Regions from separate parts of the Homo sapiens genome. Here all the other regions are reported to be linked to region 1. The links are microRNA targets in miRTarBase. Many come from high-throughput screens and were not tested one by one. Region 1 holds a microRNA gene; each other region holds the end of a gene's coding sequence.

Evidence for each region. The annotated mature microRNA hsa-miR-625-5p reads AGGGGGAAAGUUCUAUAGUCC and lies in region 1 at 2,349-2,369, opposite strand. An mRNA with a match to its seed (bases 2 to 7 or 8) in the 3' UTR can be bound and repressed. Matches are read on the target gene's strand: a 7mer-m8 pairs with bases 2 to 8, a 7mer-A1 pairs with bases 2 to 7 and ends in A, and an 8mer does both.
Region 2: the mRNA of SOX2 is a reported target of hsa-miR-625-5p. Seed matches in the 3' UTR shown: 7mer-m8 at 1,867-1,873.
Region 3: miRTarBase lists PSMD3 as a target of hsa-miR-625-5p. Seed matches in the 3' UTR shown: 7mer-m8 at 3,736-3,742 and 7mer-A1 at 3,626-3,632.
Region 4: miRTarBase lists SDK1 as a target of hsa-miR-625-5p. Seed matches in the 3' UTR shown: 7mer-m8 at 1,826-1,832 and 8mer at 2,654-2,661.
Region 5: miRTarBase lists PRELP as a target of hsa-miR-625-5p. Seed matches in the 3' UTR shown: 7mer-A1 at 1,198-1,204, 7mer-A1 at 2,686-2,692, 7mer-m8 at 2,788-2,794 and 7mer-m8 at 3,048-3,054.
Region 6: miRTarBase lists C20orf96 as a target of hsa-miR-625-5p. Seed matches in the 3' UTR shown: 7mer-m8 at 3,770-3,776.

What each region holds. Positions count from the first base shown.
Region 1 is chr14:65,468,549-65,473,484 of GRCh38, reverse strand. It overlaps MIR625 (microRNA 625), which reads right to left and starts at 2,383; the gene lies at 2,299-2,383. All of the region lies in intron 2 of FUT8 (fucosyltransferase 8), which reads right to left.
Region 2 is chr3:181,712,382-181,717,317 of GRCh38, forward strand. SOX2 (SRY-box transcription factor 2) reads left to right here. Exons shown (of 1, transcript NM_003106.4): 1 at 1-2,055. The coding sequence ends at 933. The region is part of intron 6 of SOX2-OT (SOX2 overlapping transcript); the gene reads left to right. Among named protein-coding and RNA genes, the nearest start is that of SOX2, 2.9 kb to the left of the region's middle. RefSeq lists enhancers at 1-533, 534-1,385, 3,048-4,028, 3,676-3,867 and cis regulatory regions at 3,758-3,763, 3,769-3,772.
Region 3 is chr17:39,996,431-40,001,366 of GRCh38, reverse strand. It overlaps PSMD3 (proteasome 26S subunit, non-ATPase 3), which reads right to left. Exons shown (of 12, transcript NM_002809.4): 11 at 3,987-4,037; 12 at 3,408-3,863. The coding sequence ends at 3,786. Among named protein-coding and RNA genes, the nearest start is that of PSMD3-AS1, 16 kb to the left of the region's middle.
Region 4 is chr7:4,264,246-4,269,181 of GRCh38, forward strand. It overlaps SDK1 (sidekick cell adhesion molecule 1), which reads left to right. Exons shown (of 45, transcript NM_152744.4): 45 at 879-4,755. The coding sequence ends at 1,139. Among named protein-coding and RNA genes, the nearest start is that of FOXK1, 420 kb to the right of the region's middle. RefSeq lists an enhancer at 1-634.
Region 5 is chr1:203,485,989-203,490,924 of GRCh38, forward strand. PRELP (proline and arginine rich end leucine rich repeat protein) reads left to right here. Exons shown (of 3, transcript NM_002725.4): 3 at 718-4,936. The coding sequence ends at 893. Among named protein-coding and RNA genes, the nearest start is that of OPTC, 5.7 kb to the right of the region's middle.
Region 6 is chr20:267,266-272,201 of GRCh38, forward strand. C20orf96 (chromosome 20 open reading frame 96) reads right to left here. Exons shown (of 11, transcript NM_153269.3): 11 at 3,598-4,002. The coding sequence ends at 3,942. Among named protein-coding and RNA genes, the nearest start is that of DEFB132, 12 kb to the left of the region's middle.

The DNA of each region.
Region 1 (4,936 bases):
GTAAGTCCAAAAGCATTGTTTTCTAATTATATAAGTAAGAAAAAATTTCTAATCCCGTTTTTCAAGATCCAATAAAACTTAATTAGTCCTGTGAAAGAGAACACAAAATGCTCCCCAAATGAAGGTGAGAGATAGAAAAGACAGACAAAAAGAGAAACAGAGAGAGAGACAGACTTCTGAAAACCCAAAGATATGGTACAAACATGGAAAAGCTAAATGTACAAAGATATTACAGCAATACGTACAATAAACTATCAGTCTGACCAACCTAACAGTACCTCACTCAATGAGAAAACATTGTTAGAAATGGGAAACATTTACACTGTTAACTGAAATAAGGCACAAATTTGAAAAGAAATTATTATTATAACTTTGTAAAAAAAATTGTGTATGAAAAAGGACTAAAAGGCACATATACCAACATGGTAACCACAGTTATGTTAAGATCATGGGACTGCATGTAATTCTTTTACATTCAATAATAATAATAAATAAAAGTTATAAATAAGTTGTCTAAATTATCTATAATGTGATCTTTTCAATGTAAAGTTTTCTAAAGAAAATAAAATTATATCTTACATTTAATTTACAACAATGTCTTTTTCTACTTCAATTTCTACTAAGATATTTGAGCACTAAATTCATTATATGAACTAAGTTTTTTACCATATCACAAAAAAAATAAGAATAAACATTACCTTATTCTGTGCTCATAAAAATAATTAGTGGGCAATCTACTAATTAAGAAATTCAATGTAAATGAGTCATCAAATTAATTGGTTCCATAAATCCAAAGTATCAGCATAGGGCTTTAATAACCATCCTCAGCATCATCAGTATACTTATCAGAAGTGCAATTAGTAAAGCCTGACATGACCCTACACCCAAAAAGGCTATAAAAATAAAGTTGTTTTTTTTTTTACAGTATAAGAATATAAAAATAAACCTTTGGCCATCAACATAGAAAACAAAGGCTGCTGTTGCCCTCAATCTATACTTGAAAACAGAATAGTAAATAGCCTGAGTCTATGCTATCACTTAGATGATTGTCCCTCCTGTTGAAATTTGATCTCAATGTTGGGGGTGGGGCCTAATGGGAGATGTTGTTGGGCATGGTGGGGAGGGGTCAGAACCCTCAAGAATAAATTAATGCTCTTCCTCAGGCATGCTTGAGGTCTCACTCTATTTGTTCCCCCAAGAGCTGGTTGTTAAAAAGAGCCAGGGCCCCTCCTCCCACCCTTTTCTCCTCTCTCATTTTGTGCACAAGCTGGCACCTCTTTGCCTTCTGCTATCAGTGGAAGTAGCCTAAGGCCCTCACTACAAGCCGATCCTGGTGCCATACTTCTTGTACAGCCTGCAGAACTGTGCGGTAAATCAAACTCTTTATAAATTACCTAGCCTCAGGTATTCCTACATAGCAACACAAAACAAGACAAGGCAGTCAATTCATCAATAATAAGAATCAGTCCTATGATCAACTTCCCTCTGGAGAAGTTTTTTAATCTTTCTTGCAAATTAGAATATATTATCCCCAAAATGTGCAGACCTGATGTCAGAAAGAGATAAAATTCTTAATGAACAATACTGCCAAATGAGATAAAGGATACTGTAATAAGTCTTTTGACTAGTTACAAAAGCATCAAAAATGGTCAAAAAATAACCTTAAGTACAGTTGTAAAGAGCTTGTAATTCATCACTCCCAACCTCACGACAAGAAAAAAAGCTGGGGGTAAAAAAAAAAAAACTGATAATCCAACTCTTCTTAGAGCCATCAGAGAATTGAGGTCAGAGGGCAAACTGCTGCTCTAAAACCTGGAGAGACAAGACAGGCAGATAGAGAATCACAGTGTGCAGGAAGCAGAAGTCCAGGAATACAAGCTCTCAACTGAAGCCAGCATCAGTAGGAACACTTGAAACAGTAATTGTGGACTAGCTTGAGAGTTAAAAACTGTAAGGGGACCAGTCTTACAGGGGTCCCCATACTTTCCTGAGTTTTACCTCCAGGAGCCCTACCAGGTTCTCATGGTAAAGATCTGAAAAAAAACCCCTCCTGCTTGCAGCAGGGGAAGAAGAAAAACCATTTTGAAATACGCCAGGAACTTTATTTCTCTTAAAAGGTATTCCAGAAAAGGAAACTATTTTACCAGAACCTAACCAACTGGCTTTTAGATTGCCTAACCTACTACGGTTTTACAGTGCCTAACCAACCGGAGGGAAGGGAAATACCCAACTCCAGCCCCATCTATCCTTTGACCGAGAAAAAGAGACAGTTACTCAACTCAGGCTCACAGTTGGTAGAGGGCAGAGGGATGAGGGGGAAAGTTCTATAGTCCTGAGATCTAATTACAGGACTATAGAACTTTCCCCCTCATCCCTCTACCCTTACCACCACATCAGTACAGCTCTTGTACAACACAGGATTACAACTTAAAAACCTGCAAGCCTCAGACCCCATTTAAGGATTCTTTACAAAAACCCAAAGACAACAGGGCAGATAAAAGCAAGGACAGTAGAAGAAATTTTAGCCTCTAATAGTGATGGCGGTGGCTTTCTGGTACATGGACGGCACAGGGAGAGGCGGACAGACCCCCTCCCTCAACAGCCCGCCGCCCTCTGTGCAGCACAGTCAAGCAGAGAGCAGACCGATGCAGAGCTGAGGCTGAGCTTCAGGGGCCTGAGGCAGGAAGTGGGAGCGGTGCCCACTTCAGGGACCAGCCAGTGACACAGCCACTGCGCCCACCCCACTGAGGGTGCCAGGTTCCTGGGCCTCAGGAGGAGGCTCTGTGCAGGGCTGCCCGGGGCTACATCCCCAGGGTCCACCCCACATCAGGCGACTGCTGAGCCTGCCACTCCCAACAGCCAGGCCGGACAGTTATCTGCTCTGCCTGGGCCACTGAAGCGCCAGGGCAACTGGGGTAGCTCCCGGCGATGTCACCCCTGCCCCGGATCCCAGCCCAGGTCCAGCAAGGATCTGGAGCCCCTGTCTCAGGCTGAAAGGGGGCGGAGCCAGGGCTGCATGCTCCACAGTGCCAGTGGGAGCCAGGAGCAGGCAGCAGCCCAAGCCACCCAAGCCTGGGTGGTAGACCCAGGCCTCCATGTGCTCTTGGGGACTGGAAACAGGCAGGAGCCCTGTCCCCCAACCCCATACAGCTGCAGCTACCCAAGTCAGGGTTGTGGACCCAGGCCTCCGTGTGCTCTTGGGGGCTCAGGAAGGCCCCCCTTGCCTTTGCAGGCTCGGAAATGCCTGTTCCCGCTGCCACTTCCCGCACCGGCTCCAATGTGGCAGGTTCTCAGAGTGGGGTTGGAGCCAAGCCTGGATATCATCACAGCCCAACAGGATATGCGCATGCTCAGGCCCTGCCGCCTAGGCCCCCTCTGAGGAAGCTGAGGTGGAGAGCTGCTCCATGCTGGCAGGCAGGTGCCCCTTGGCACAAGCAGCCTGGGAGCCATGGAAAGTGGCAGGAAGCAGACAGGCTCCTGGGTGGAAGGGGGCACGTCCCCAGATAGACCCCACCTTCAGGCCAGGGAGGGCCTGAACGTTGGGGACCGGGCTGCCAGTCCCGCAGACTGCAGTGGGGGCTTGTGGTGCCTTTTCCAGCCCACCCATGGCCACCGATGTACCAATTGACACACTTCCTCCCCACTGAGGTCCATAAAAGCCCCGAGATCAGCCAGAGCAGGGCAGAGGCCAGAGAGACAGCCAGATGACTAGCTGCAGAGAGGAGCTATCGTCTCTGCTGAGAGCTGGGAAGTCAATGGGGACCTGCCTGCAGAGAGGAGCCACTCACTCCAGGGCCTCCTCTCTGCTGAGAGCTGAACACTGGATGAGACAACCTGCCTATAGAGAGGGGCTGCCCTCTGCAGCTCTCCTCTGAGCTGTTCTAACACTCAGTAAAGCTTCTCTTTGTCTTGCTCACCCTCCACTTGTCTGCATACATAATTCTTCCTGGACACAGGACAAGAACTCGGGCAAAGGCGCCACTGGCCACAGAGGTTTCTAGACAGAAAAGCAACACCTTAAAGATCCCGTAACATTTGCCTCCGATACCACAGCCAGAACAAACACTAAACACAGCCTGACTTCTAAACAGATAAACATAAAACCTCACACTAAAGGCCTATTTACCTCAGTTCCTTTTACCTGATACATTCTGTCTGGCTATGAAAAAAAATTATGAGGCACTATAAAGGCAAAAAATACAATCTGAAGAAACAAAGCAAGCCTCGGAAACAGACTCGGATGTGGCAGAAATTTTTACCAGGAATTATCAAATTATCACCAGGAATTTTTTTTTATATATATGTTTTGAGACAGGGTCTCACTGTTACCCAGTCTGGAGTACAGTGGTGATTCACAGCGCACTGTAGCCTTGAACTCCTAGGCACAAACAATCTTCCTGCCACAGCTTCCCAAGCAGGTAGGACTACAGGTGCATGCCACCACCATGCCCAGCTAAGTCCTTTTTTCTAAGACCGGCCTGGGCAACATTGGAGACCCTGTTTCTACGATTTTTTTTTTAATCGCCAGGCATGGTGGCACACACCTGTAGTCCTGGCTACTTGAGAAGCTGAGGAGGGAGAATCACTTGAGCCTAGGAGTTCAAGACTGCAGCGAGTTATGATCACGCCACTACTGCACTCCAGCCAGGGTGACAGAGTGAGATCCTGTGGAAAGAAAGGAAGAGTAAAGAGAAGGAAAAAACAGTGAAGAGGGGAGGCGAGGAAGGGGAGTGTACAAATCAATAACACTGTAACAGGAAAGAATGTCTTTAGTAAGAAACACCAAACCTGGAAGTTCAGAGAACACCAAGCAAGATAAATACCAAAATATTTACATAGGCAAATGATAGTGAAGCTGCAGAAAATAAGACAAAGAGAAAACTAAATCAAAAGCAAAACTTTAGTTTTTTCCTTATTAACTTTAAGACCAATAAGA
Region 2 (4,936 bases), not on the chromosome of region 1:
GAGCTGAAGCCGCCGGGCCCGCAGCAAACTTCGGGGGGCGGCGGCGGCAACTCCACCGCGGCGGCGGCCGGCGGCAACCAGAAAAACAGCCCGGACCGCGTCAAGCGGCCCATGAATGCCTTCATGGTGTGGTCCCGCGGGCAGCGGCGCAAGATGGCCCAGGAGAACCCCAAGATGCACAACTCGGAGATCAGCAAGCGCCTGGGCGCCGAGTGGAAACTTTTGTCGGAGACGGAGAAGCGGCCGTTCATCGACGAGGCTAAGCGGCTGCGAGCGCTGCACATGAAGGAGCACCCGGATTATAAATACCGGCCCCGGCGGAAAACCAAGACGCTCATGAAGAAGGATAAGTACACGCTGCCCGGCGGGCTGCTGGCCCCCGGCGGCAATAGCATGGCGAGCGGGGTCGGGGTGGGCGCCGGCCTGGGCGCGGGCGTGAACCAGCGCATGGACAGTTACGCGCACATGAACGGCTGGAGCAACGGCAGCTACAGCATGATGCAGGACCAGCTGGGCTACCCGCAGCACCCGGGCCTCAATGCGCACGGCGCAGCGCAGATGCAGCCCATGCACCGCTACGACGTGAGCGCCCTGCAGTACAACTCCATGACCAGCTCGCAGACCTACATGAACGGCTCGCCCACCTACAGCATGTCCTACTCGCAGCAGGGCACCCCTGGCATGGCTCTTGGCTCCATGGGTTCGGTGGTCAAGTCCGAGGCCAGCTCCAGCCCCCCTGTGGTTACCTCTTCCTCCCACTCCAGGGCGCCCTGCCAGGCCGGGGACCTCCGGGACATGATCAGCATGTATCTCCCCGGCGCCGAGGTGCCGGAACCCGCCGCCCCCAGCAGACTTCACATGTCCCAGCACTACCAGAGCGGCCCGGTGCCCGGCACGGCCATTAACGGCACACTGCCCCTCTCACACATGTGAGGGCCGGACAGCGAACTGGAGGGGGGAGAAATTTTCAAAGAAAAACGAGGGAAATGGGAGGGGTGCAAAAGAGGAGAGTAAGAAACAGCATGGAGAAAACCCGGTACGCTCAAAAAGAAAAAGGAAAAAAAAAAATCCCATCACCCACAGCAAATGACAGCTGCAAAAGAGAACACCAATCCCATCCACACTCACGCAAAAACCGCGATGCCGACAAGAAAACTTTTATGAGAGAGATCCTGGACTTCTTTTTGGGGGACTATTTTTGTACAGAGAAAACCTGGGGAGGGTGGGGAGGGCGGGGGAATGGACCTTGTATAGATCTGGAGGAAAGAAAGCTACGAAAAACTTTTTAAAAGTTCTAGTGGTACGGTAGGAGCTTTGCAGGAAGTTTGCAAAAGTCTTTACCAATAATATTTAGAGCTAGTCTCCAAGCGACGAAAAAAATGTTTTAATATTTGCAAGCAACTTTTGTACAGTATTTATCGAGATAAACATGGCAATCAAAATGTCCATTGTTTATAAGCTGAGAATTTGCCAATATTTTTCAAGGAGAGGCTTCTTGCTGAATTTTGATTCTGCAGCTGAAATTTAGGACAGTTGCAAACGTGAAAAGAAGAAAATTATTCAAATTTGGACATTTTAATTGTTTAAAAATTGTACAAAAGGAAAAAATTAGAATAAGTACTGGCGAACCATCTCTGTGGTCTTGTTTAAAAAGGGCAAAAGTTTTAGACTGTACTAAATTTTATAACTTACTGTTAAAAGCAAAAATGGCCATGCAGGTTGACACCGTTGGTAATTTATAATAGCTTTTGTTCGATCCCAACTTTCCATTTTGTTCAGATAAAAAAAACCATGAAATTACTGTGTTTGAAATATTTTCTTATGGTTTGTAATATTTCTGTAAATTTATTGTGATATTTTAAGGTTTTCCCCCCTTTATTTTCCGTAGTTGTATTTTAAAAGATTCGGCTCTGTATTATTTGAATCAGTCTGCCGAGAATCCATGTATATATTTGAACTAATATCATCCTTATAACAGGTACATTTTCAACTTAAGTTTTTACTCCATTATGCACAGTTTGAGATAAATAAATTTTTGAAATATGGACACTGAAATTATTCTTGAGTCTTTCATTTATTTGGATAACACTGTGATTATACATAACTTTTCGGGGAATTATAATACTGTGCTCAGCCAAGAAAGCAAAATACCAAAAACCTTGGTATTACTAGTCCAGCATCATGTGCTAATGTTAACTGCAAAAAAGAAACGGCTGGATGATTAATAAGTACTGGAAAAATTGAAATTTCTGTCATTTCTAAAATAGAAACTAGAGACATATATTGTAAATCCGCCCCCTCCTTTTCTAAGCAGCATGAATAAGCATGATGGGGACCTATACTTAAAACTGATTTATGCCACTTGTTGCCAGAAAGGATTCAATTCTGAAATTTTTCATGTAGTTTAGCAGATGGGATATTGAGCCAAATCAGAACCAGGTTGGCTGGTTTTGTTTTCATTTTCTTCACAGCACAATGGCCCTTTGAAACCTGGCTATAGAGAAAAATGATGCTTCTTGTATCAGAATAATTGCAAACTAGACATGCAAAGTGTTCATCTGCTGGGTGGGTGTTTGGATTACTCTGGCCCTGCTATTGTCTGAGAGGAAACAAGTGGTTTGCTTTCTTTGTTCCTTGACTTCATAAACTTTCTCCTCTACATTTTCCTGTTCGGGGAGAGGGAAAGAAAAGAACATCTTGCAAAACTCCCCGGCTTATCATAAACATAGTTTTTTTTATTATTTATTTTCTTTTTTCCCCTCTCTCTCCCTCTCTCCCTGAATTCCATTTCTTAAATTGGCAGCGCGGGTCCAAGCCTGTAGCCCCAAATCGGATAATCTCTGCAGCTGATAACAAGCAAAAGAGAAGCCAGGCAACAGCCATATTAAAGAAGAAAACAATCAACTCTGAGGTAGATATTTTACTTTGTCCGGTCTAATCACATTTGGAGATGATTATGCTTTTGATCTGTTAACAATGTTTTACTACTGTAGTAGAGAAGTGGGGGAGGGGAAAGGGGTGGGGAAACAAGATTGGATTTGTTGTGTGGTGGTTTTTTTTTTTTTTTTTTTTTTTTTTTTTTTTTTTTTTTTTTTTTTTTTTGCCCTAGGAAAGGTAAAGAAAGGCTATAGTTGTCCTCAGTGGGAGTGGAAAAGTTGAGACATCGCCATGGTCTTTGAATTAGCGATGCTTCTGCATCACCACCCACCCTTGCTTTGGGGCAGCCGGATAATCTGTTACCTAGTCAGGGACTTTTCTACTTTATTTACTACTTGATTCGCTCGTCTTCCCCCACCCACGGGGACCAGGAACCAACAATCGGGCACTTTTAAGAGCACGGGTTTGCTTCCCACAATTTCAAGAGCTTGTGTCAACTTGCTACAACTTTGGAGAAGTTGGAATCCGGCAGCGTCTTCCACCCTTGAGTAAAGTACCCGCTGCAGCCACTAAGTTAGCTCATCCCGTTGGTTTGCATCTTCTCATTTCCAAGAAAGTATTTCTTTCTCATGGTGTTGCTAATGTTAGTTCTGGGCTGAACTGAGGATATCTCATATTTTCTGTACTTTCTATTTTTTTCTAGATTGCTTTGTTTTAGATATGTACTGGTTTTTATTTATTACTTTTTTAATCCTCATTTTTAGGATAACATTGTACTGGGAAGGGACAATTATTATTCCAGTTCCCAATTCTAAGCAAGGCATTTTCCCCCCTAATTAATGCAGAGACTCTAAAAGAATTTCCCCTAGCCTGGCCAGCCATTGTAATGCATATACGGATTATTCACGTGGTAATGAGCACATTCGCCAGTTCTTGCTCACACATACGAATAAAAGAAACTTTGAATAAAGATCCAAATGATCATCCTGGGGGAGTGGGGAGGATATTCCCGGAATTTGAGGCAGTCAAATATATAGATTATATATATTTTGAAAATAGAAATATATTAGAAATATGTATAGAGGTTTACAGTAATTGCACTGCACTCACCTCTCATTTTTTAAAAAAAAGCCCACAGGGTCAGCAACTTTCTGGCAAAATGGTCAGGTTCAAATATTTAGCAAAAGGAAAGGGAGCACAATATTTTGGGAAGTAGAACTAGCTTTGAATAATTGTCACTATCTGCATAAAACAAGAGAACTCCCGTTCCCCCTTCTACCCCTTCATATCGCCGAGCCAAATAGTTGAAAAATGAAAGTCAAAATATTTTGTTTGCAAATATAAATGCTTTTGATAACTACATCTGAGGGAAATGATATATATCTTGTACGATCATTCATTTGATTAAATTAAATGGTTACCTGAGATATGTAATTTCATGGCTAGATTAATATCGAACATATAATATTTTAATAATAATGTGATTTTCAAGGAGAGTAAACCCATAAACTTGCCCAGAGATGGTTATCTCATGGTGCTGAAGATAGTTGTTGTTTAGTTCTTTTCCTCGGGATATTATTCTGCTCAATGAAACCACTCAATTTCCAGTCAAATAGGGTGAATTTAAATGTTTTGTTAACTATATACACAGAATAGAAATGTGCAAAAGGATGAGAGTACAGTCTGTTCTTTCTGAAATTTTTTTCTCTCCCCAAACCACCCACCCCCCCCCCACCACATACTTTAAATAAAGAGCGTTAAAATATTTTGCTGAGCTGTAGTAGATTAGCAAGGTTTCTTGCCAATGCTGGGAAGCTGGTATTACAGACCATCCCAGGGGAAAATGGCTCACATTAACCACTAAATGAATATTTGACAAGGGCTCATTCGGAGGTATTATTGCTATAAACGTGTCCCTACTGGACTTTTCAAGGGTCAAAGAGCAATGCTTCAATTAATTATTTAGACTGCTAGTAGATTTGGTGGTAATAGCTGTACTTATTTCTAGAAATCGACACATTCTTACAGTAGGAAAATCTCAGGAGAATCTTCTCCATCA
Region 3 (4,936 bases), not on the chromosome of region 1:
CATCTAGAATGATGAATGCTTTCTAAGTTTTCAGTTTACCCAGATCCATCAGCGGAATCACTATGGCAGCTCTAGCCTTACAAAATGTATTTCTTAAAAAAGACTTGAAAGTTGAAATTACTTCTTCATCCATGGGCTGCAGAATGGATGTGTTAGCAGGAATGAAAACAATATTATTTCCCTGGTATCCCTCCATCAGAGCCCTTGGGTAATCAGGTGCATCGTCAATCAGCAGTAATAACTTTAAAAAATATTTTTTTTGGCTGAGTGCGGTGGCTCATGCCTGTAATCCCAGCTACTCAGGAGGCTGAGGCAGGAGAATCGCTTGAACCTAGAAGCAGAGGTTGCAGTGAGCTGAGATCATGCCACGGCACTCCAGCCTGGCCGACAGAGCCGACGAAGGAGTTGGTCTCAACAGTGGCTTAAAATGTTCGGTAAACCATGCTGGGAACAGATGGGCTGTCATCCAGGCTTTGTTGTTCCATCCACAGAGCACAGGCAGAATAGATTTAGCATCATTCTTAAGAGCCCTGGGATTTTCGGAATGGTAAATGAGCATTGGCTTCAACTTAAAGTCGCCAGCTGCATTAGCCCTAACGAGAGTCAGCCTGTCCTTCGAAGCTTTGAAGCCAGGGATTGACTTCTCTTCTGTAGCTATGAAAGTCCCAGGTGGCATCTTCTTCCAATAGAAGGCTGTTTGTCTACATTGAAAGTCTGTTTTTGAGTGTAGCCACCTTCGTCAGTGAGATCAGCTAGATCTGATGGATAACTTACTGCAGCTTCTCCATCAGCACTTGCTGCTTCACTTTGCACTTTTATGTTACAGAGACGGCTTCTTTCTTTCAACCTCACAAAACAACCTCTGTTAGCTTCTGACTTTTCTTCTGCAACTTTCTCACCTCTCTCTGCCTTCAAAGGATTGAAGAGAGTGAGGGCCTTTCTCCGGACTAGGCTTTGGCTTAAAGGAATGTTGTGGCTGATTTGATCTTCTTTCCAGACTCAAACTTTCTCCGTATCAGCAATAATGCTATTCTGCTTTCATATCATTTGTGTGTCCACTAGAGCAGCACTTTTAATTTAATTTATCATTTTTATTTTTTATTGTTTTGAGACAGAATTTCGCTCTGTCACCCAGGTTGGAGTGCAGTGGTGCGATCTTGACTCATGGTAACCTCCGCCTCCCCACTTCAAGCGATTCTCCTGCCTCAGCGTCCTAAGTAGTTCGGAGTACAGGCATGCACCACCACGCCCAGCTAATTTTTTGTATTTTTAGTAGAGATGGGGTCTTGCCATGTTGGCCAGGCTGGTCTCGAACTCTTTTTAAAACATTTTTTTTGAGACAGAGTTTCGCTTTTGTTACCCAGGCTGAAGTGCAGTGGTGTGATCTCGGCTCACTGCAACCTCTGCCTTCCGGTTTCAAGGATTCTCCTATCTCAGCCTCCCGAGTAGCTGGGATTACAGGCGCCCACTGCCATGCCTGGCTAGTTTTTGTATTTGTAGTAGAGACGGGGTTTCACCATGCTGGCCAGGCTGGTCTCGAACTCCTGACCTTGTGATCTGCCCGCCTCAGCCTCCCAAAGTGCTGGGATTACAGTTGTGAGCCACCGTGCCCAACCTGGAGCAGCACTTTTAATTTCCTTAAAGAACTCCCCCTTCACAACTTGGCTACCTGTTTGGTGCAGGAGACCTGACTTTTGGCCTCTCTCAGCTTTCAACATGCCTTCCTCACTAAGCATAATCATTTTGACCTTTTGATTGAAAGTGAGAGATGTGTGATTCTTTCTCCCTTTTTCTGTTTTCTTGTTTTGAGACAGGGTCTCACTGTCGCCCAGGTGGGAGTGCAGTGGCAGGATCTCAGGTCACTGCAGCCTCTGCCTTCACCTCCCAGGCTCAAGGGCTCCTTCCACCTCAGGCTTCCTAGTAGCTGGGACTACAGGTGCGTGCCACATGCCCAGCTAATTTTTATATTTTTTGTAGCGATAAGGTTTCATTGTGTTGCCCAGGCTGATCTCCAACTCCTGAGCTCAAGGGGTCCACCAGCCTTGGCCTCCCAAAGTGCTGGGATAACAGGCGTGAGTCACCAGGCCTGGCCAATGACTCTTTCTCTCACTGGAACACTTAAGAGGCCATTGTAGGGTTACTAACAGGCCTAATTTCAATATTATTTTGTGTCTCAGGGCATGGAGAGACTCAAGAAGAGGGAGAGAGACAGGGAATGGAGTGAGCAGTGTGAGCAGTGAGAACACACTCGACATTTATTAAGTTCACCATCTTTTTTTTTTTTTTGACAATGTCTCACTGTGTCACCCAGGCTGGAGTGCAATGGCACGATCTTGGCTCACTGGAACCTCCGCCTCCTGGGTTCAAGCAATTCTCCTGCCTCAGTCTCCCAAGTAGCTGGGATTACAGGCGCCTGCCACCACACCCGGCTGTTTTTTGTATTTTTAGTAGAGACGGGGTTTCCCCATGTTGTCCAAGCTGGTCCTGAACTCCTGACCTCAGGTGATCCACCTGCCTCGGCCTGCCAAAGTGCTGGGATTACAAGCGCGAGCCACCGTGCCCGGCTAAGTTCACCATCCTATATGGGTGCAATTTGTGGTGCCCCAACAATGACAATAGTAACATCAAAGATCACCGATCACACATCACCATAACAGATATAATGAAAAAGTTTGAGATATCGAGAGGATTTACCAAAATGTGACCCAGAGACGCTAAGTGAGCACATGCTGTTGGGAAAATGGCACCGACAGATTTGCTTGATGCAGTGTTGCCAGAAACCTTCAATTTGTCCTTTTCTTTTTCTTTTGAGACACAGTCTCACTCTGTTGCCCAGGCTGGAGTGCAGTGGCGAGATCTTGGCTCACTGCATGCTCCACCTCCCGGGTTCAAGCAATTCTCCTGCTTCAGCCTCCCAAGTAGCTGGGATTACAGGCGCCTGCCTCCATGCCCAGCTGATTTTTTTATTTTTAGTAGAGACGGGGTTTTGCCATGTTGGCCAGGCTGGTCTCAAACTCCTGACCTTTAGTGATCCGCCCACCTTAGCCTCCCAAAGTGTTGGGATTACAGGCATGAGCCACCATGCCTGGCCAAACCTTCAATTTGTAAAAACTGCAATAACCGTGAAGCACCATGAGGTGTATTGGGAGATGAAGGTCTGCAGCTGGTGATGGACACATGGTACACCTTTCCTAACAAGACCTTACCAAAGCCACACAAGTACGAAAAGAGAGTAAACCTAGGCCCCCGACCCCAGGTCAGGGTCCCTTCATCCTCCCCTGGGCACCTCCCCATCTGCAGACCCATCGCCCTCAGATTACACACCTGGGGCTAGTACTCTAAGGCCAAAAAACCCAAAATCTGAGCCTGCCAATACTGCAGTGAAGTATAGTAACTGATGCACAAAGCACTGTGGAGAACTTTTTATTGTTTAAAAATCATAATCGAAGCTTCAAAAAACATACAAGCCAAGACATCCCAGTTCTAGTCCCCCACTCCCTAAAGGAGTACACAGAACTATCCTTCCCCTCCTGCTCCCACACTGCTGGCCAGGACCCTGCCCGGGGAGGTTGCCTGCCCACCCTCCTGCCTGCTGTACAGTAAGTCACCGGCTGGGGAGGAGCCCTGGGGGAGGTCAGGGTGGCTGGCTCCCAGCACCCCCACCCCCTGCACGAATGCAGCATATGAGCTGTGTGTGGGAAAATGGGGACAGTGCCCTGGGCAGGGGACCCCCAAGGGGGAAAGAGCCTGTCCCCATTCCCCCTACCCCTCCCCAGCCCCCCAGCTCAAGGGAAGCTGTCATCATCATCTTCTGCCATCTCCTTGGCAAACTCCAAGTCCTGCTGTTCTCGCTCACGCCGTTCCTGGGGAGAGAGGCAAGTGAGGCCAAAGCTTCAGAGCAGCTCAGCCCTTCCAGACACTCGCCCGACTCCCCTTCTGTGTGGAAGTTTGACCTTTCGGTCTCACCCAGAAAGCAGAGAGCTTACCTCTGCAGACTCCAAGTCCTTGTTGTACGATTTGGGAGGAAACCTCATGGCCTGGGGCACAGCAAAGAGAGGAGATGAGCGAGGGAAGGAAGCAGGTGAGGCACTCACGCAACCTGCACTCCCTGCGTCCCCTCTGTGAGCTAGACACCAGGCAGGAAGCGGCGGGCCCCTCTCCAGTTAGTCTAGTGGGGGGCTAGGCATCAAAGGAATTATTACAGTGCCCTGTGGGAAATGCTGAAAAAAGAGGAATAAACGACCAACTCTCTTGACTGGGCAGGGAGGAGGAAAAGGAGGAACACAGTGGATGTGGCAACGGGGAGAGGCCTTCCCGGTGGAGGATTCCATGTGGGAGGGGCCTGGCCTGCACCCAGTGGGCTGGCTGCTGGGTGGTGGGGCAGGAGTGGGAGGGGAGGCTTGACCTAAGGGACCAGGTCACAAAGGGCCTTGCATGTCACGTGGAGTAGGGCTTAGCCAGATTTTAAGCAAGGCAGCAATATCCTAGTTTCCTCGGAGGAGACCAGAAAAAAACATGGCAAGCAAATAGTAACAGCGCCAAACTCAGTGCTTAACTGAGGATAAGGGCTCACCCTTTTGTGGAGCTAGATACCAGCGCCATCTTTTTTACAATTTAGACTTCGCTAAGTGCCTCAATACAGGGACTTCTTTTAATCTTACCAACCCTGTGAAGCAAGCAAGACAGGTAACACCTCCCTATCAGCTTCAGAGATGGAGAAACAGAGCTTTGAGAAGTTAAATGCCTCAAATTTGGAACCAAATGTAGAACCCCGCCCTCTGAATCCCTGCCTGGTCCTCCCTGGTGACCACATCATCCCTTAAACGCAATAGGAGAGGGCAACTGGCTATGGAACTATGGCCAAGTCCCCTCCCCATTCTGGGCCCCCTGTGCTGCAGCTCAGTGATTTTACAGAGATTGGCTGGGACGTGGGCCA
Region 4 (4,936 bases), not on the chromosome of region 1:
CGTAGACCTCTCCTGAGTGGGGAGGCCGCGTAGACCTCTCCTGAGTGGGGAGGCCGTGTAGACCTCTCCTGAGTGAGGGAGGCCGCGTAGATCTCTCCTGAGTGAGGAGGCCGTGTAGATCTCTCCTGAGTGAGGGAGGCCGTGTGGACCTCTCCTGGGGTAAGGAAGGCCGCGTGGACCTCTCCTGGGGTAAGGAAGGCCGCGTGGACCTCTCCTGAGTGAGGGAGGCCGCGTGGACCTCTCCTGAGTGAGGGAGGCCGCGTGGACCTCTCCTGAGTGAGGGAGGCCGCGTGGACCTCTCCTGAGTGAGGGAGGCCGCGTGGACCTCTCCTGAGTGGGGAGGCCGCGTGGACCTCTCCTGAGTGAGGGAAGCCGTGTGGACCTCTCCTGGGGTAAGGAAGGCCGTGTAGACCTCTCCTGAGTGAGGGAGGCTGCGTAGATCTCTCCTGAGTGGGGAGGCGGTGTGGACCTCTCCTGGGGTAAGGAAGGCCGTGTAGACCTCTCCTGAGTGAGGGAGGCCGTGTAGACCTCTCCTGGGGTGAGGAGACCATGTAGATTGCTCCTGAGTGGGGAGGCTGCATAGACCTCTCCTGGGTGGAGGCCCAGCTCTTCTCGGAAACCTGGTACAGAGTGAGGGGCTGGATGCAGCTGAGAAAATGCAGTGTCGGTCACACCTGGATCAGGGAGGGGGACCTGGGGGCTGCCTGCTCTCCTGTGTGGAGGGTGGGAGGGCCTGGCATTGGGTTGGGGTGGGGAGAGGGCTGGAGACCGCGACACACGCCCCTGGGGAGGTGCCCCCACCGCCAGGCCTCCTGCCCAGCACGCTCCGGGCCCTGCGCCCTGCCCTGCACTCACACCTTCTCTCCCGCTCCCCGCAGGCCACGGACTCTGACTACGAGGACGCGCTGCCCAAGCACTCCTTCGTGAACCACTACATGAGCGACCCCACCTACTACAACTCATGGAAGCGCAGGGCCCAGGGCCGCGCACCTGCGCCGCACAGGTACGAGGCGGTGGCGGGCTCCGAGGCGGGCGCGCAGCTGCACCCGGTCATCACCACGCAGAGCGCGGGCGGCGTCTACACCCCCGCTGGCCCCGGCGCGCGAACTCCGCTCACCGGCTTCTCCTCCTTCGTGTGAGCAAAGCGCCGCGCCTCCCTCAGGGCGGAACGGAGGCAACTTTCCGGAGTCTATTTTTGTTAAGACAATCAACTCCAATAACTGAGCTGAAGTTTTTGTTTAAAAAGAAAAAAATCTGATAAGTGATGATTTTACCTACTTGTGGACACTAGATTTCAATTAGGAAGGTTTTTTTAAACGGCTTTTTGTAACTTCGCTGCAGGAAGCAGGTTTGTTTCTTTTTCTTTTCTTTTTAAGAGAAGGTGTATTTCACTGGTGCAATGGCTTGGCACCTCCGGGGCCTGGGAGGACCTCAGACCTCCCCAGCCCTGGGTTTCTCCGTCTTCAAGACCAACTAGGAAGGGTCAAGCGGGGAGAGGGAGTGGAGGGTCAGGTGAGATCTCAGAGCTGCCCCGGCCGGCCCCCGTCTCTTTCTACCTCCTCTTCCAGAGAACCAGCGGCTCACACCCTTCTCAACGCAGGACATCCTCGGCGGCTCCTGGGGTTTGAAGAGCAAACGTTTTTCCCTGGGCTCAGTGCGTTTTGTCCCAACTTCATCTGTTTCTGAAATGTTCTCACTTGGCAGTGTCTAGTCAAGGAGTCGGCTTTCAGGTTCCTGACGGCCAGGCAGGGATGCTAAGGTGTGGCTCAGCCGTCACTGTCTGTGTCACTGCAGTGGTGCGGTCCTCAGGCTTTTCTGCCTGTCTTTCCCCCTTCCTTCTCACCTGACAGCGAGGGAGAGGGAAGCCTCTTAGGGCTGGAAGCCACCACGCTGGCCCTCTCCTTCCCCGAACACAGCACACGGTCAACTCCGCGGGACACGAGGACACGGGACGGCGTCTCCAGAATTGCTTGTTACGTAGGAAGCGTGCATTGTTAACCAGAGTATTTTTAAAATCTTTTTATCTTTTTTTAAACTATGTCACATGAAATGAATGCGTCTTTGCTGTCTCCAGGTGCCTTTTTATTAATTGTTCAGCTTTGTACATGGGAAAGATGAAAAGCAACAGTGTCTGCAAATAAAGCAAAACAGCTCTGAGAACACACGCTCCCGACTCGCCTCGTGCACACCAGGCCGTCCCCTCCCTCTGTCCTGGCTTCTGCTGGCTGCTCGCAGCAGCCACCGCTTCTCCACCACTGGCGCTGCTGCTGCCCCCTCTCCCAGTCCGAGGCCAGCTTTTAGCCTTAACAGGTTTTTTGGAAATGTTTCTTTTTTTTATTTAAAATTGTCATTGTTTGGTTTAAATTTTTCAGCTAGATGAAAAGAGTATGAACTACTTTGGAAAACTTAACAGCTCAGAGATGGCCATGCCTCCAGCCCCTCACGTCATCTTTGCAACAGACGACTGGGCTGCCATGGTCCACCCCTCAGCCCGGGTCCCGGGTCTGGATGGAACGGGAGCACTGCTGGTGCCCACTGGCGTGTGTGCCCCGGGTCCCTGTAAGTGCCCCCTCACCAGCAGCAGCGTGACACACACAAGACTCAAGACCACCCTGTCAGTGCCCCCCAGTGCACGGCAAACGGGCAGGTGCCGTTCCCCCAGTGACCTGAGGGTAGGGGACAACTGAGCAGTATCTGACCAGTGCCACCCAGGAGCCAGTCTCCTGGCCACATGCAGAAAGTGTGGCCCCTGCTTACCTAGATGTTTTGTGCACCTCCATGGGCAGAGGGTGTGGATATTGCCTGGATTCTGTGCTGTCAGCGTTGCTGAGTATGGCCCCAGGAGACCAAGGAGAGTTTTGTATAGGCTGGAAAACCCCTTTTCAGTCTTTCCAAAATTAGAGGGTATGGCAAGTTTCCTTTTTTCTCTCCTCCCTTCCTTCCCCTCCTTCCTTTCCTTTACCCCTCCTTTCCTTCCTTCCTCCCTTCCTCTCTTCTTTCCTCCCTCCCTCCCTCCTTCCCTCCCTTCCTTCCTCTCTTTCCTCCTTCCTTCCCTCCCTTCTTTCCCTCCCTCCCTTCCTCTCTCCCCTATTCCTTCTTCCTTTTCTCCTCCTTTTTCTGAGTGGAGGGGGAAATATTCTAAACCAAAAATCCTAGATGCTCTGCCCAAAGCCACTTCTGCATGAGAATCGCAACCCACAGTTCCCCGGATGAGACTCACCACAGTGGACAGTGCCACCTCCTTCCCCTCGGCCCCGGAGAGGGCGAAGTGGGCGGGAAGCCAGGATGTGAGCACTGGAATTTCTTGGAAGAGAAGCGATAAATGGAGACCATGGCCAGCGCTGCTTTCTGTGCACTCTGATGACTGCTCTCTGCAGCCATGAGGATGTGGCTTTACATGCCAGGGAGAGTGTTGAGACGTCTTAGGTTGAGGATGAGCAGATTCGAGATATGTTTGTTGCTCTCGGGTTTTCGATACAACATCATGACACTTCTGTTTCAAGCTCATGTTTTCCGTCTCCCCTCCACTCTTAGTAAACCTTGATCTGTACGGAGCGGCCTGTCCGAGGCTACGCCGGCCTCCTGGCTGCTGCTGGACTGTGCTTAGGACAGCGCCCATGCCTCGGAGGGACTCTGTCCCATGAGAACCACCTGTGCAAAGGAACAGAGCTGGATGTTTCCAGGTAGATTTTGGCCTCCCAGAGCAATGCGGCATTTGAGAAGCAACAGTTCCTAACTCCTTATCTTCAGGGAAGGAAAAGAAAATCACAGCCTAGGAAGATGGAGGTTGGATTTTAATCTCGGTTTTAAAAAGAGGACAAACAAAATGTCTCTAAGCCAGGCTAGATGGAATGTGCTCCCGCTCTCTCCTGCCGTGCTGAAAGTCATGCCTTGCGGATGCCTCATGACAGCAGTGGCTGAGTCTCCCCACCCACCCCCAACGTGGCTCATTTCAGATTGCTTCGGCCCCACCCTGCAAGGATGTGGTCACGGAGTGGCCAGGAGGCTCCGTCTGAGCCACAGGGATGGGTGTGCAGAGCTCCCTCCTCCTGGGGTGCCAGGGCAGAGATTCCAGGCAGGTGAGCCCAGAGAGAGCTGCCAGGCCACACCCCCTCGGCCTCCTGCACGGCCACCTTCTGGGTGAATCGGTCCAGCCCAAGCCCCTCTCCCCAGCCTCGCCTTCAGCCTCTCTCCCAGCCTGCTTTTATAAGGCGCACTTCACTCAATGCTGTAGCCAAAAAACGAGGGGCCCCAGGGAGAGGGGACCCAGATGGCCACACACGGAACGCGCCTCCACAGCCCCGGGAGGTGGCTCACTCTGTACAGGTCTTCGGAGGCCGTGTTTGTATCTAACTGTGACTGGGCTGAAGCATGATGTTTGCCTAATGGTTCGTAGCATGGTTTTTATTTCTTACGCATTCTTGGCACACAGTGTAGCTATCCTCCTGACGAGCAACCCGTCTGCGTACCTAAGTGTGGCTCCCCGTGGGTCAGCGTCCTGGTAGCATGGATCCAGTCTGAAAGGTGAGGACAACGTGGAAACTCATGAGCTGAGCCTGCCCGCTGGGACACGTCTCCTTCCCGCGTCACCTTCTGGTTTAGGGAGCCGTCAGGTCCCTAAACGTTCCCTACAACTTTTTCTGAAATTGTGCAGAAAAACAGATCTCATTAAAAGAAAAAAAGAAACAACTTGTAGGAAGACAGAGAGGTGCTATGGGTACAATTTTTAATAAAAACATTATTTTGTTCCTTAAACGCTTGTGATTTTCTTCAAGCATTGATGCAATTATTCGGGAGACCTTAGGAACCTTCTGGATTTGAAAAGCTGTAAATATGAACCACTGGGACTTCACCCCAGTGCCGTGCTGGACCCCCGGCACCCCCAACACCCTTACCTTTATCCTGTTGACATGCAGGTGTGTACAGGCAGCATCCC
Region 5 (4,936 bases), not on the chromosome of region 1:
CCATCCTCATGTCTCACATCCAATTCAAAGGAAAACCTGCAGAGTAATTTTCACATCCACCTACTGGCTTCAGATCTCACCTTACTCCATTGCTTCTCCACAGTGTAGCCGGATTATCTTTGTACAGCATAAACCTGAACATAGGGATCTCTAAGGACCCTTCCAGATTTAACGCTCCAGGATACCATGGTTCAAGTATCCTGTTAATAACATCGCTCTCACAAAGACAGTCCTGTTCACTGCCATTCCTCAGACCAGAGATCAAAAGCCTCTTAGTGAAAGCCTAACTACCTTCCCAGCTTACTCTCCTTAGTACATCACATTGGGCACTATTACTATTCCCAGATTCGCCCACAAGCAGAATTTTGGCCTCCACAACTTCATTCAAACAGATTCCTCTATCAGAACACCATCCCCCAGGTCTCCACCTGTTGTAATTCTACCTATTCTTGAAGGCCCAGTTCAAAATTTACTTCCAATTCTCTAGAGTTAACTTGCAATAACAGTTGTTGATCAATTCCAACTTAATTCATTTTACAAATGAGTAAACTGAGCCTGGAGGTCAAGGCAGCTCATCTATGATCACACATTCCCAAAGCTAGCCAGTTTCAGAGAGAAGTCTACAGTCCTTGCTCTCGGGTGTCTTCCCCCTTCCCCTTCCTCATCTTGGCCGCCAGCCTCCACTCCCTTCTGATTTCTCGTCTTCTTTTTCCGTAGAAATCAACGGAACCCAGATTTGCCCCAACGACCTAGTGGCGTTCCATGACTTCTCCTCGGACCTGGAGAACGTGCCACACCTGCGCTACCTGCGGCTGGATGGAAACTACTTGAAGCCGCCCATCCCGCTGGACCTCATGATGTGCTTCCGCCTCCTGCAGTCCGTGGTCATCTAGGCCCTACTCCGCCACCGGATCTGCTCTGACCGCACTTGAAGGCTGGGGCCCAGGCACCTGTGCCGGCCATTCGTTTTCTCTCTCTCCCTTTCTTTCTCCCAGCTTTGCCTCCCTTATCCCACCCTCGAGGCAGGGAAAAGCCATCTATTCTTCTGCAGCCTCAGGAGCGAGACTTCAAGGACTCAGTTTGGTTCCACCCAGTTGAAAGACACCCAGTGCACACCCAAACTCCTGGCCTTCTGTGGTTTCCCTTTGCTCCAGAAACACAGATGTGTCTAAAGACTTGGTGTCCCCTTCTCTCTCCTCCCCCACCCGCCACTCCTGGGTACATCTGGGCCGTGGACTATCTGATCTTGGTCCTGGCCGAGCAAACAGCCCGGAGGTAAGGTTCAGAAAGTCCCCCTGGGGACTCCTCCATCTTCGGCAGCTCTGGCTCAAAGAGGCCGAGAAACCCAGTTCTCCTGGGCCAAGGATCCCTTCTGGCAAAGCTGCTGCTCCGCCGCTTGGTTCCCCGGCACCAGACATCGCCCTGGCCCTGCTGGCCCGGGTATCGGGAAGGAGGAGCGAGGGAATGACGGAGGTAGGGTGCAGGGTCAGGGCTCCCGCAGGGGCCTGCATCTGGCCAGCAGGACACAGGGATGCGCAGGGCGCCCCCTTCTGTTCCAGGGTGAACATAGCACACGCCCTCCTGGCTGGGCCTCAGGAGGAACAGCCAAGGAGAAGAATGGCCCAAGGAACTAGGAAGCAGCCATGGGAGAGGGGAAGGGTTCAAGCCCGGGATGGGCCCGCGTGACGTCGATGGGTCCTGCGGCCCCCTTGCCCAACCTCGGGTTTAGGGAGGAGGGTTCACAGTGTTTTTGTGGGGGCGGGGGAAGGAAGAGGCAGCCCCGCCCCCGCCATCTGTTCTCCATCAGTGTGCGCGGCCCAGCCATTTCCACCCTCGGGAGGCGGCTCCTGAGAAACAGGGAGGAAGGGGCGGAGCACCTGGACGTCTCCCAGAAGCCCCTCCACGTTTGAAAATGCGCCTCCTCCTCGGAGACAGACGCATCGGTGCCACCTAGTGGCTGGTGGGAGTAACAGCTGGTCCCAGTCTTGCGCCTGGCCCTCTTCCTGGGGTGATTTTCCTCGGTGGAGGAGGCCCGTGGGGTCCCAACACGGAAGAGCCATGGGCCGTGTGCATGGTGTCGCTCTCCTCTAGGGTCTAGCGGGCACAAACGTCCCCAGGCTGGGCTCATTCCCATCGTGAGTGAGCCCAGGTGAGGACATAGTCGGCTCCCGTTTGTTGTAGGCCCTTCCCAGGTGCCTTCTCAGCTCCCTCATCTGTAAACCGAGGAGGTGGATAAGATGCTCCCGGCCGGGCGCGGTGGCTCACGCCTGTAATCCCAGCACTTTGGGAGGCCGAGGCGGGCAGATTATTGCCTGAGCTCAGGAGTTCGAAACCACCCTGGGCAACATGGTGAAACCCCCGTCTCTACTAAAATACAAAAAAATTAGCCAGGCATAGTGGCGCGCGCCTATAATCCCAGCTACTGGGAGGCTGAGGCGGGAGAATCGCTTGAGCCGGGGAGGCGGAGGTTGCAGTGAGGCGAGATTGTGCCACTGCACTCCAGCTTGGGCGACAGAGTGAGACTCCGTCTCAAAAAAGAAAAAAAAAAGATGCTCCTCTGAGGTCCCTCCGGCGCTCATGTTCCGAGTCTGCAGCTCCACACTTTAAATCATACTCGAATGCAGGACAAGTCCTAAATATTTGCCCCTTCCCTTGCAGTAATTTATTTTCTGTATGGACTGTCCCTCCCCCAGAGGCTTCCCCACCCTCCATTGCCTGGCCCAGGTGAGCAGCTTGGCAGGTCTCCAAGTGGAACCCGGTCCAGACAGGGCTGCCTCGACTTCACCTTTCCCCCTAACTTCCTCCAAGGGATGCTGCCCCTTCTCAGCCCCCTGCGTGTGTATATTGGTGGGAGGCATAGAGGATGGATGTTCTAGAAATGAGTAAGACACAGTGCCCACCCCCAAGTTAGGATGAAAAAAGTTCCAGAGGTTTTTAAGAAATTGGATTAAGCTGGGTCCCTAACTTCAAGAAATTCCCATTATGCTCCTTCTCACCTTTCTTTTTTGCTAATTATGGAAAATAGGGCCCATTTCATCATAGCCTCCTTCCCCCGTGCTCCACTACAATCGCCGCATTCTTTCTAGCTGCAGCTGGTTTCTTCAAGGCTCCTGCTTAAAGTCCACACGTTATTATGGCCGAAAGCAACCTGGTGCTTCGGCCTGGATAAGAGCCCCTTCTGCATCTTATTCACAGCTTGCAGCCTCAGCCCCTTTGATGAGGCCCTCAGGGGAGAGGTCATTACCTTGATCCTGCAAACCCAGACTCGTTGAGCAGCAACGCAATCACCATCATCCCACTGCCCAATCTAGAATATGTCTGCTCTCCTTTGCTCTCTGCAGCTGTAAGCCAGAGGGGATTCAAGGTAAATAGGCTTTACAGGCTCCCCTCCTCCAAACACACACAGAATGGGCTGGTTTCTTTCAAGTTTAAAAAAAGCCCCCTTCTCCATGCACAAGTTCATTCCCTCCATGCTGTCGTCATCGACATATACAGGTGTGTACGTAGGTGTATGTGTGTACTCTGCACGTATATCTCTTCTGTCTTGAAGACCCTGTTAACTTTGTGAAATAACTTCCACATTTCAACACACTTCACAGTACAGGAAATAAAGTAATATGAAAAACACCCTGCGTGAACTCAACGGTGTGAACAGGTCAAGAATAACACTTCAAAGTCATCTTGCCAGCCAGGCGTGGTGGATCACGCCTGTAATCCCAGCACTCTGGGAGGCCAAAGCGGGCAGATCACCTGAGGTCAGGAGTTCAAGACCAGCCTGGCCAACATAGTGAAACCCCTTGTTTACTCAAAATACAAAAATTGGCTGGGTGCGGTGGTACATGCCTGTAGTCCCAGCTACTTGGGAGGCTGAGGCAGGAGAATTGCTTGAACCCTGGAGGCAGAAGTTGCAGTGAGCCGAGATCGCACCACTGCACTCCAGCCTAGGAGACAAAACGAGACTTCATTTAAAAAAAATAAAAATAAAAATAAAAATAAAGTCATCTTGCCACCCACCCCCTACCATTGAGCCACCATGCCCAGCCCCAAAGCCTCTTAATTGCTCTAACAAGATGAGTGGGGAAAAGATTATACTCTTAAGAAATTCCTACGAAAGCTATCCAAAAGCCTTTTCTTTCCTCTTTTCTTATTATTTTTAAATAGAGGCAGGGTCTCATTATGTTGCCCAGGCTGGTCTGGAACTCCTGGCCTCAAGTGATCCTCCCACCTTGGCCTCCCCAGAGTGCTGGGATTACACACGTGAGTCACCATGCCCAGCCCCAAAGCCATTTCTTGAAGAATTTCTCGCAAACTCACAACCCTCATGAAAAATTAATCCTCAGTTCCACGAGACTGCCCACCCACAGACAAAAAAATATATATATTCCTAAAGTCGGACCAGAAATCTGACAGCTGCCTTTGAAACCCAAAGCCTCGGGTTCTTTCAAGCTACATGTACTAAATTGTCGAAGGTCTCCCAGGAGCTCTGTACTGAGGCAGACACAGAAAGACACAAAACGGTCGTCTTTCCTGCCCAAGTAAAGCTTACAGACTAACTGGGGAGATGTAGTGTGCATACAAAACAGTAAAAGAGCCATCTCAAGGACAGAGAGCATAGACCAAGTCATCTGGAATGGTCTACATGCCATGCGGAAGTCCACCGAAGGGTTAGAACAGGGTGTCCCAGACTCTCTCTTCTGAGGGAAGGTTGGTTGCAAAAGTGGGATTCATGACCCTCCCAGGCTACACCATCTTCTTTAGAATGAGAACTGCCAGGTGACGCCCTCGCTGCTCCTACCTGGCTACTAAACATCGACTTCGGTTCACTTCACGGATGTTCAGTGGATATCGGTCACATGCCAGGTCCCCAGCTACGCATTCAAGGATGGATAATATACATAGCAGCACATCCTTGAGGAACTCATACCTTGGTAAAGGG
Region 6 (4,936 bases), not on the chromosome of region 1:
AGACACAAGAGATCCAGGCCAAGACTCACACTTCACAAGATACACAGACACGGGCCTTAGGGAACAGGAAATTCCATGAAACTTCCATTTACCCAATTAGCCGGACTCACTGAGCCCCAGAATAGGGTTTTCAACCAACTCCTACTAAAATTAAAAAGTAATGTGTGGTATAGATTGGAATAATAGACATTGGAGGCTACAAACGATGGGAGGCGGAGAGGGGTGAGGGTTGAAAAATTACCTATTGGGTGCAACATTCACTATCCGGGTAATGGGGCACTAGAAGCCCACTCCACCACTATGCAATATATGTATTTGTACCCCGTAAATCTATAAAAATAAAAACTACATTAAAAATAATAATAATGTCTGGTCATCTAAATAGTACCTCTACAGCTTATTAAGTGCTCTGGAGACGTCCCAGTTGCCTGTCCTTCCCATTAAAGGTGATATCCAGTGCTGATTTCCCCTTCAACCTCGGGTTCCCATAAACCTCTTCTTTCTCACTCCTGCTGCCCTCCGGTACTCCAATAAAGAATGATAGATGGGCCGGGAGCAGTGGCTCACGCCTGTAATCCCAGCACTTTGGGAGGCCAAGGCGGATGGATCACCTGAGGTCAGGAGTTGGAGACCAGCCTGGTCAACATGGTGAAACCCCGTTTCTACTAAAATACAAAAATTAGCTGGGCATGGTGGCGGGCCTCAGTAATCCCAGCTACTCAGGAGGCTGAGGCAGGAGAATCGCTTGAACCCGGGGGCAGAAGTTGCAGTGAGCAGAGATTGTGCCACTGCACTCCAACCTGGGCGACAGAGCAAGACTCCGTCTCAAAAAAGAAAAAAAGAAAAGAAACAGTCCCAGTATGCATCCATGTGCATGTGCATGCAGGTGTATCTGCCTGTGAGAGCTGCGCACGCGGCTCTGAGTACCTGGGAAGACACCCATGTACAGATGCTGTACATGTGCGGGGTCACTCTCTGGCGCATTCGGAGGCATGAGGGCTACGTGCAATGCGAGGGAACCTATGTCCAGGCTTCCTTTCTTGGTTTTCCTCCTCTGAACTCATGCATCCCTTCACAAACAGTCCAGCTCCTGGCTAAAAACCTATGTGTGATTTTTCAGCCCAAACACAGGCAATGACAGGTTTTACCTGGCAGGCCTCACAGCTGAGTCGTGCACAGCTGATGCGTTGCAGTCTTTAAAGACAGTTGCAGACACAGACTCAGGCCTCCTGGACAGTCGACCTCTCACACACATCTCCGCTCCCAACCCAAGTCTTCATTCAGACACGTCTTCATTGCAGTGGGGTAGGCCTTCGGCCAGGACCTCCTTATCTTGGGGAGTGGAGAATCCTTGAAGACACTTTCCTCCATGCTGACTCAGAAGTTTTCCCACTCTCCCTTCCCCACCCCATCCCTGGCCCCCAGGTCCGTACAACTTCAGGAGCCTTTTTGTTGGAAGCTTTTCTGCAGTGAGACCAACCCCACACCTGTGCTCATCCACCCGACCCCAGTTGGCATCATTCTATGAGGAAATTAGAACAGGTGGATCTGTGTTCTACAAAATAAAACAAACCAGGTTCTCTGGTTTAGCCTCTTTCTTGTACTGTAATAATAAGAGATTTGGGGCTTGGCTATTACTTGCTTTGACTTTTTTTGTTTTGAGACAGGGTTTCGCTCTGTCACCCAGGCTGGAGTGCAGTGGTGCGATCTCGGCTCACTGCAACCTCCGCCTCCTGGGCTCAAGCAATCCTCCCACCTCAGTCTCCCTAGTAGCTAGGACTACAGGTGCACACCATCATGCCCAGCTAATTTTTATATTTTTTATAGAGATGGGGTTTCACCATGTTGTCCAGTCTGGTCTCAAATTCCTGAGATCAAGCAACCCACTGGCCTCAGCCTCCCAAAGTGTGAGGATTACAGGCCTGAGCCACCATGCCGGGCCATCATTAATCAGCTACTCCAGCACTTAGCAGTTCAGCTCTCTCCTGCTCAGCTGAGCTCCTGATTGTACAGTGGTTAAGAGCAAACTGCCTCTGCCACTTAGTAACCTGGTGACTTGAAAAATCACTTTGCCTTTTCATCCTTTGGTTTCTTCATCTGTAAAATGAAAATAACAATAAACAATACCTACTTCACAGGGTGGTTGTTGTGAGGGTGTAGTGAGTTGATGTATGTAAAGCATAACGTAGGTTCCATTGAAGTGTTTGCTATTGTGTTCAACAGGGTCCATTTCTGCTTGGAGATCCACATGGCTCTGGGGAGTACCTGTTGGCTCAGCCTAGGTCACGTGTTCCACCTTAACCATCCCTTCCCTGCTCCAAGGTAGAGCCCGTGACCTGAACTAAACCAGCAGGCACGCTCCACCTCCAACACCGGCTCAAGGTGGGCGTGTAATATAAGCTGGTTCAATTAGAATGAATCTTTTTTTTTTTTTTTTAAAGACGGAGTCTCATCCCCCATCACCCAGACTGGAGAGCAGTGGCACAATCTCAGCTCACTGCAACCTCTGCCTCCCAGGTTCAAGCAATTATCCTGCTTCAGCCTCCTGAGTAGCTGGGATTACAGGTGCCTGCTGCCACGCCCAGCTCATTTTTGTATTTTTAGTAGACACAGGGTGTTGCCATGTTGGCCAGGATGGTCTCGAACTCCTGACCTCAAGTGATCCACCCACCTCGGCCTCCCAAAGTGCTAGGATTACAGGCGTGAACCACTGTGCCCAGCCCAATTACAGTGAATCTTAATACACTGGCTGAAAATTCTGGGACACAGCCAGTCTCTCTCTTTCCAACAGGACATGTACAAGGACCTGTACAACCCTGGGAGATGCTGGCATATTGGGGCCACAAGCAGTGCTGACCTGAAGAAAAGGGCAACACCTCAGAAAACAAAGTAGATAAATAGAAACCAAGTCCTTGGTGCCATCACTTGATTTCTGGACAAAGCCTCACCTAAGCTATTTATTGACCTGAGCCCTTCATAGTTTAGGCCAATGTGATTTGGTTGTTTTGTTACCTGTAACCAAGTATCTTAACACAAAGTGGATCTGTGAGTGACCAGAGCCTCTTGGGGGTTGTAGCAATCTAGTAGTTGGCCCAGAAAGGCCAACTCTGAGATGGAGTGTAGGGTGCAGAATGTTGAGTAATGAGTGCTCTTGGAATCAACAACTGAGGAAGACAGAAATATGCAGGATTGGGCACAGGGAGAAGTTCAGCTGCAGTGCAGGCCCAAGGGTAGTTGCAGCTGAGCCTTCAGGAAGTTCTGGAGCCAGAGTAGCCCTTCTGAGTTGTTCCAAGCACTGAAGGCCTAGCAAGTTCCAGGGGTATTAAAATCAATAAGCCTGTCAGCCCCGACAATGCCCTCAATAGGTCTGGGCACAGATTGGAGAGAAGCTGGGCTCCCACTGCACCAGGAGGGAGTGGCCCAGAGCCACTGAGCCATGGAGACTCAGGCAGGGGGTTGCTCCAGCACTTCTTCTGGAGAAGTTTTGAGCCCCAGATGCAGTTAGCACAGTTGCCCGCCCCTTATCATAAGACGAAGTCCGTTCCCACCACATCTTCTGCAAGACCTAGCTGGGGACCCCGAGACACTGGCAAAAAAGCAAATGTAAATCCAGCTTTATTGGTAAAAAAGGAATAGCAGATTTAATCAGAAATTCCCACCTGGCCCAGCAGCACCAACCAGAAAGAAGGGAAGAAGAGAGGAAAAAACCACAGGAAGAAAGAAAGGAGGGAGGGAGGGAGAGGAGGAAGGAAGGAGGAGGGAAGGGAAGGGGGGAAGAAGGGAGGGAGGGAGGGAGGGAAAGAAAGAGGGAGGAAGGGCAGAGGGAGCAGGGAGACTGTAGATCAGGGTCTGAATGGAGATCCGGTCCTGGAAGTAAATGATCCAAGGCTCCAGGTGCTGGGAAGAGAGCAGGAGGGGAGGGCGGCCCATGGCACTGCCATCTAGAAGGGTAGTGGCTCTTCCACAGGAATGTTGAGGATGACATCCATGTCTGGGGTGCACCTGGTGGGAGGCAGCACAGAAGGCCATGAGAGACCAGAGGTGGCGGTGTGGGAGCACCCACTCAGAGGAGCCCTGCTCTTTAGAACTCTGGTACGTACTTGGGTTGGGGGGCAATCCCAAAATACAATCTGTGATCTATCTGTGACCTCAAAGCCCAACTGTGCATACACAAGCATACACACACACACACACACACACACACACACACACACATACACACACATCAAAAATGGAAAAGAAATGAGTTTGGCAGGACAAATGTTCCCCTGACAAGTCTGAGGTCAAGAGGGAGCAGGAACTCAGCTCTGAAATGCTGAGGGCCCTCAAGATGATCACTGGCTTTGGAGTGAGGATGACAGGTTTGATAACTTTGACCTGTGTCACCTTGAGCAAGCTATTTCTACTCTCCCAGCCTCACTCCTTCAGTTGGCACTTAAGTGAAAAGCACTCATTAAGTCCCAGACCCCAAGTGAGCCTCAGTTTCCTCATCTGTCAAATGGGTTTAATATTCTAACCTCAGTCATTGGTGGAAAGATTAAATGAGACCATGCCAGCAGGTAATAAGTGCTCAGTAAATGACAGGCATTATTATTTCCATGAAAGTAGCAAGAGAGATGGATTCCCATCAGCAATATATTCCCCATTGCAGGGACCAGCACAAATATTTAAGAGGCTGAAGGATTACATTCTGTTTCACTCTCTTTTCTCTCTTCCAAGGAGACCATCCTCTCTCATGGTTTCAATAATCTGCTGATACACATGAAGTATTTAGGCAGGAAATGTCAGGATACTTGCAATTTACAAATACTATTAAAAAAATGAACATGAAACCAACATAGAAAAAAAAAAAATTTCTAAATCTAGATGGGCAAAACTGGCTATTCATTATATCATTCTCTCTTCTTTATATTTGAAATTTTTCATAATAATAGTA